Linked DNA regions of Homo sapiens. The protein of the gene in region 2 purifies or fractionates together with the protein of the main gene of each other region. This does not show direct contact. Each region holds a gene or a part of one and is shown on either strand. Other genes may lie near its edges.

The links.
Region 1: the proteins of FIBIN (region 2) and TRHDE purify together in Homo sapiens (affinity purification with mass spectrometry; one large-scale study listed by BioGRID and IntAct). This does not show direct contact.

Annotation. Positions count from the first base shown.
Region 1 is NC_000012.12:72,618,309-72,621,966, forward strand, and holds part of TRHDE (thyrotropin-releasing hormone-degrading ectoenzyme), read left to right. Parts: intron 1-582; coding exon 583-730; intron 731-2,799; coding exon 2,800-2,897; intron 2,898-3,335; coding exon 3,336-3,443; intron 3,444-3,658. UniProt on the Homo sapiens protein: Specific inactivation of TRH after its release.
Region 2 is NC_000011.10:26,992,518-26,996,275, forward strand, and holds the start of FIBIN (fin bud initiation factor homolog precursor), read left to right. Parts: upstream 1-1,594; 5' UTR 1,595-2,009; coding exon 2,010-2,645; 3' UTR 2,646-3,758.

The DNA of each region.
Region 1 (3,658 bases), on a different chromosome or scaffold from region 2:
TAACATTTTTGTAATTTGGACTTTATTAAAACCTAACTCAGATTTTTATCGGTGTTATGGAAAGCAACTTTAAAAAAAGGTTTGAAAAACATGCTAATATTGTAATCTAACAAACACTCAGAACTACAAATTGACACTTTAATTTGTTGATCTTTTAAAGAACAATGTGTATTAAATATCATTACCCTGAGCTAAATGACAAGTAAAGACAATACATGGAGAAACTGAAATTACATTTCAGTGATCAATTATTTTCAATTGCTTGTTAACCTCTGAAGAGTTTCTGTGAAGGAACATACCTAGGCTCGGTTTTGCTTATGTTCCATAATTCCTTACTTTTAAAAAAATATGCGTTCTGATGTTTTTGTATTCGTAAATTTTTAACTGTCCAACTCTGCATATATTAAGGTGGCACTGGCATCCTAAGTATGACTATATTTTAAAAGTGAGTAATTTTATTCTTATAACACTGAATATGCTTTCTTTATACTATGATGAATTTTGCTTTTCCGTCTTTTATTTGCGTAAGTAAAAATCTTCGTTTGTGCATCATCATGTATCTTTTTTTTTTTTTAACTGTAGGGCTGGCTATTTGCCTCAGAATATTCCTCTGGAGATTATCAGATACCTGTCTGAGGAGAAGGATTTTCTTCCTTGGCATGCTGCCAGCCGAGCTCTTTATCCTCTAGATAAATTACTGGACCGCATGGAAAACTACAACATTTTCAATGTAAAAAGATATAATTTTTCTTTCTAATTTTTAGAAGATACACTATTTTATTCTCTTTCTACTATTATATATGCAACTGATGCCAAGTTATTTTAGTTTGTTCTTCTAGTTTGTGTTATCCCGATTTTTGTCCTGATTGTCTATGCAACACAGATGACAATTATTTGAAGAAGAAATTTAATACAAAATGCTGACCTAAAAGTGTCAATTAAGCTTAAATGCTTCAGAATTTAAGAAGAAATATACATGGCAAATTTTTAAAGTTCAAACTTACTTTCCAAGAGTTAGAGGGCTCTGTGTTCACAAAGGACTTAACCTGGGTAGAAAGATCCCAAAGATCTTAACAGAATATAGGCATTTTCAGTAATGATTCTTAGTCATTATTTTTATCCAAAAGGGCATACTGAATTCAATTCACTGCCTTAATTAACAAGGATAAGATCAACATTGAGGCAAAAGCCCATTCGTAATTGGGTCCAAGGGGATACAGGAAAGCAAACAACAGACAATCCAAAGAGACAAGAAGACATGACAAACATTCCAAAATGTTACCTGACCAGATTTTCTGAACTCAAAACCTAGTAAACCAAAATTACACTGCTCATGCCACCTAATCTGATTTAATAATCATTTTCAATAATATTAGGATTAAGTACTGCTCATGAGCCTTTTGATTCTTAAATTTCTTATCACTGTGCCTTCCATGATGTTTGAACACTATTTGTTTTCCTTTAGTTAGCGTAAGAGCCTGCCCTGTGTTTTATAAAATTATCTTATTTTTTATACTGTACTAATTAACATACACATTTGGGATTACTGAAAAGTGGATTCCTGTGACATGAATCTTTTTATTGGAGCCATCTGATTTCTGATGCCCATCAGAATTCCTTCCTTTTTATTTTTACTTTAAACCTACAGAAAATAAACTGTTTAATGATTTTTTTTAAAAAATGGGAATAATTACGTTCATTGTTAGTTTTGTCTAAGCCCTTAGAACAGACATGCAAACAAATGGGTCATTACAGTTATGATACAATTTTTTACTTGCTAGAGAAAGATTACACATTAATTTCTCCCTAACACAAAGACACTGCAATATTAAACCTTTGTAAAAGTAAAATATATTTTTGAATATATTTGTACATTAGAATAGCGTATCATGTCAGATTCCTTGTTTTCAGTAAACAGTTAAGAATCATTTTTATTGTAATTTCATTGTTTGTATTCCTTGGCAAAATTCAAGAAGCACATTAAAGTGAGGGAGAGCCAACCTGGGCAACATGGTGAAACCCATCTCTACAAAAAAAAAAAAAAAAAAAAAAAGAAATACAAAAATTAACTGGGTGTAGTGGCTTGTGCCTGTATTCCCAGCTGCTCATGAGGCTGAGGTGGGAGGATGGCTTGAATCTGAGAGGCGGAGGATGCAGTGAGCCGTGGTTGTTGCCACTGTACTCCAGCCTGAGCAACAGAGTGGAGACCCTGTCTAAAAAAACAAAAAATAGTGAGGGAGAGCATGCCTTACCTTGATACTGACACTTAAATGTGTCATTAGCTGAATGAATTGTTGACTTTGAAATATCATTATAATTACACTGAAGAGTTCTGTGTATCTCAGCTTCATCAATACTAGGCCATTGGTTGGGCCAACATAGTAGTTTTGCATTAAATATGCCTTGTTGATATAAAATGCGTAAATATTAGATGTCCATTTTCATATAGTATATCTATATACATTTGTACATATGTACGCATAGGTGTTATCAATATTCTTTGTTTTCCTCATTTTGTTACAAAAGTCATCATCTAAAATATTTACTCATGCAAATTACTTAGTGATTTAATAGGAAGAGTAGACTTGTACCATTCCAATAGCATTTTATCCCTCTTTTCTATATATGAAATACTAAATTAAATAAAATTATAATAGAACATTACTGTACTTATAATTTTATGGATATTTGAAAGTAGGTACATTTTAAGAATATTTTAATTTTATTACAGAATTTTAATTGTCAGCATACAGAAGTTTTAAACTGACCTTATCTTTATTTATTCTATACCCCATTTAGGAATATATTTTAAAGCAAGTTGCAACAACATATATCAAGCTTGGGTGGCCGAAAAATAATTTTAATGGATCTCTTGTTCAAGCATCCTACCAACATGAGTACTGTTTTATTTTCTTATCCTCTTCTTTACCCCTAGAGCTGTATAATAATGTACTACTAGTGCCATTGTGACTTTAGCTGCATGAGACAATCTTCCTTTCATTCTTCATCTTACATTTCACTTTCCCGAGAGGACTGCTGCTGGGTAGCACAGTTTCCATTGCCTGATCCTGAGAACAAAGACGTTTCCTTGCTGTGTTTTAATTTAAGATCTACCTTTATTGGTGATATTGAGATCAGAACCCATGCCTCTCACTGGAGTACTGTTAAACTTTTAGTATGTTTAACTTCCACTCTGCCTAAGTGACTTTTACTCAGCAGCATAGGATTTCCAGATCTAAAAACCATTTTTATGTTAATAATTTACTTATCTACTATTTAGGGAATGAATTTCCCTAACTTTCTTTTTAATTTGTTTCCCTTTTGATGATATCTAGAGAACTACGTAGAGAAGTTATAATGCTGGCCTGCAGTTTTGGCAACAAGCACTGTCACCAACAGGCATCAACACTTATTTCAGATTGGATTTCCAGCAACAGGAACAGGTAAACTGAGCCAAATCCTGTATTTCTGATATTATTTAATAGTGCTTTCAGAGTCTCAGTGGATGCATTTCATTTACCAACTGGAGAAAAACAAGATAAGGAAAAACAAAAGCATGCAGCAACATTTTGTGTCAGGTTCACAGCTTCCAAGGCAATAGTGTGAAAGTCACAATACAGGTATCTTTGAAATGTTTCATTGACTTTATGCTAACTTT
Region 2 (3,758 bases):
ACTGTCCCAGAACAGTGTGGCACTGTGAGTCTGAATGAAGCCAGTCCCTTATTACTTGGGGAGGGAGATAGGTATGGAACACTGGCAAGTCAACATGAATGTTTCAGTTACATTTCAAGGAAGAAGGAGAAAATACCCATAGAAACAGGAGTGCTGCCTGCTTCTGCTTTCCCATGCTTCCTCTGTTTCTTTTCTTCCACAGCCCTATTGATGTCCAACTTACATCTTATTTATTTACATATTTTTCTTTTTTTGAGAAAAGGTCTTACTCTGTCACCCAGGCTGGACTGCAGTGGTGCGATCTAGGCTCACAGCAACCTCCCTCTCCTGGATTCAAGCAATACTCCTGTCTTAGCCCCCTGAGTAACTGGGATTACAGGCATGCACCACCATGTCCAGCTATTTTTTTTTTTTTTTTTTGTATTTTCAGTAGAGATGGAGTTTCACCATGTTGGTCAGGCTGGTCTCGAACTTCTGACCTCAAGTGATCCACCCACCTCTGCCTCCCAAAGTGCTGGAATTACAGACGTGAGCCACCACGCCTGACCTATTTTCAAAAATTTAAGTTTTCTATTTCCCAAAATATAAGTGCCAGGAAGGCAAGGATTTGTCTTTATTTTTGTTCACAGCTGTATTCCCACTACCTCAAATAGATTTTGGCATGCAGTAAATGCTCAAGAAATATTCATTAAACAAATGAATGGCCTTTAGGATGGCCATTTGCCAATAAGTTCATAAATTAGAAATTAAAATGGCCAGGTTAAAAAAAAAAAAAAAAACATTGTTTTTCTCCCCCCAAGTTAAATTAAAAGACCTTGTGACAATTAGTTCTGGCTCAACTAAAGTCTAACTGTGTGACTATAATCAATTTGCTTAACATTCTGCTCCTTCATTTCTCCATCTGGAAAATGGGCATAATAGTACCAGAAACATTCTTCAAAAGCTTTCAAGACTCTCAAAAGAGGCAACAACTATAAAAGCATTAGGTTCAAGATTCAATGCAGATGCTTAGCATTGTTTCATAAAATTAAATAAGGATCTCATTGTCCTTTAACTCACTAAGCTGGCAAAATTTCATTTTTCTGCTTCTGTTCTTATACATACTAAAGACTATACATTAAGCAACTTTCTGTATTTTCATTTCATCCAAAGTATTGTTGATATAAATTTTAATTAACCAATCATTTTCAAACAAAACTGTAATTTCTGACACTTTAAATTTGCCTTCAAAGTCACAAAGTTTTAAAGATAAAAATAGATATACTCAGAAAATCCAACCTGATATTTATTGAGACACGTGAAATGGCATTTTTCCAGGGTAATCATTCCTTCCCCCTCCCAATATGTCAATAACAAACCAGGGTTTTTGTGGTGGAAATTCCATTTATTCTCTTCTCATTTTCTCTTTCGAGCTAAATTCTATTGTAGAGTCTTCCCTTCCAACCTTTAAAAAGCGACCCTGTACCTTTAATAGTGGAGACCTGGTGAGAGGTTCTTTTCCAAACTTGTTCCCTGGCTTCCAAGTGACGAAACCAGCTGTAATTTGAGAGCAGAGAGATCCTCAGGATATCTTTAGCCAAAGGAAAAGCTCCGCATTCCCACCCAGTCCAGAAATTGAAATACTATCAGGGGGCAAGAGCCTTTCTCTCCAGCTACACACTCCATCTCCCGGGAGCAAGGGGAAACTCCGAGAGGAGGGCAACAGAGCCAGCATCTTGCCAGGGCCCCGGAGGAGGGGTTCCCCGCTACGCCTGTGCCGGAGGAGTTCCAGTCACCGAGCGAGGGGCGCAAGGGTGGGTGCATCCTGCGCTGCGGCGGGCGCGCTACCCAGACGCTGGTGTGCAGAGCCACATGAAGCCTGCTGGGGACTGGGGGCCAGGGAGCAGCAAGCCAGCTGGGACTGAGGCGGACGCTGTCTCAGGGAGACGCTGACTCGCAAAGACACTCCCTTCCTTGTGCCTGGGTAAAAAGTCTCCTCCTGGGGTCCCTGGCCATCCTGAATATCCAGAATGGTGTTTCTGAAGTTCTTCTGCATGAGTTTCTTCTGCCACCTGTGTCAAGGCTACTTCGATGGCCCCCTCTACCCAGAGATGTCCAATGGGACTCTGCACCACTACTTCGTGCCCGATGGGGACTATGAGGAGAACGATGACCCCGAGAAGTGCCAGCTGCTCTTCAGGGTGAGTGACCACAGGCGCTGCTCCCAGGGGGAGGGGAGCCAGGTTGGCAGCCTGCTGAGCCTCACCCTGCGGGAGGAGTTCACCGTGCTGGGCCGCCAGGTGGAGGATGCTGGGCGCGTGCTGGAGGGCATCAGCAAAAGCATCTCCTACGACCTAGACGGGGAAGAGAGCTATGGCAAGTACCTGCGGCGGGAGTCCCACCAGATCGGGGATGCCTACTCCAACTCGGACAAATCCCTCACTGAGCTGGAGAGCAAGTTCAAGCAGGGCCAGGAACAGGACAGCCGGCAGGAGAGCAGGCTCAACGAGGACTTTCTGGGAATGCTGGTCCACACCAGGTCCCTGCTGAAGGAGACACTGGACATCTCTGTGGGGCTCAGGGACAAATACGAGCTGCTGGCCCTCACCATTAGGAGCCATGGGACCCGACTAGGTCGGCTGAAAAATGATTATCTTAAAGTATAGGTGGAAGGATACAAATGCTAGAAAGAGGGAATCAAATCAGCCCCGTTTTGGAGGGTGGGGGACAGAAGATGGGGCTACATTTCCCCCATACCTACTATTTTTTTATATCCCGATTTGCACTTTGAGAATACATCTAAGGTCATCTTTCAAAAGAGAAAAATTGGACACTTGAGTGACTTTGTTTTTAGTTTTGTTTTTGTACATTATTTATGTGATTGTTATGGAATTGTCACCTGGAAAGAACAATTTTAAGCAATGTCATTTCTAGATGGGTTTCTAATTCTGCAGAGACACCCGTTTCAGCCACATCTAAAAGAGCACAGTTTATGTGGTGCGGAATTAAACTTCCCCATCCTGCAGATTATGTGGAAATACCCAAAGATAATAGTGCATAGCTCCTTTCAGCCTCTAGCCTTCACTCCTGGGCTCCAAAAGCTATCCCAGTTGCCTGTTTTTCAAATGAGGTTCAAGGTGCTGCTTTGCATGCCTGCCAACCCATGGAAGTTGTTTCTTACTTCTTTTCTCTCTTATTTATTAACCATGGTCTGAGAGTTGTTTTTGTTCTATGTAACAGTATTGCCACAAAACTATAGGCAAATCGTGTTTGCAGGGAGATTTCTGATGCCTCTGTGGGTGTGTGTAAGTTAAAGTGGCCACATTTAAGAAGGCCAAGCTTTGTAGTGGTTGCACAGTCACACTGATATGCTGATTTGCTCTTTCTCATTGTATGTCTATGCTTTGTCATCAGTGCTATAGTAAATTACAAAGAAATAGGTAGATTGTATGAACATACCCACAAATGCCTATGATTTAGGTTACCAATGTATTCTTTCTCATTTGGGGTTTTGCTTCTGTCTGTCTGTTTATTGGAAACTTGTACTTCAAGTAGGGGGAATCCTAATTCTAATAACTCCTTAGCTAAGTTTTATTATTCAGGCAATAAACATGTTTTCATGTAATACTGGCTTACTTTGTAATTTACATCTGTAACTTTCATATTTCTAAAAGGGGCCAATGCAAAAGGAGAGAGAAGGACTGGATTTAAGCCAGTTTACTTAGAGTATATGATAAAGAAGGCAGAGGAATAGCTACATATTTGGCAATTCTCCTCTC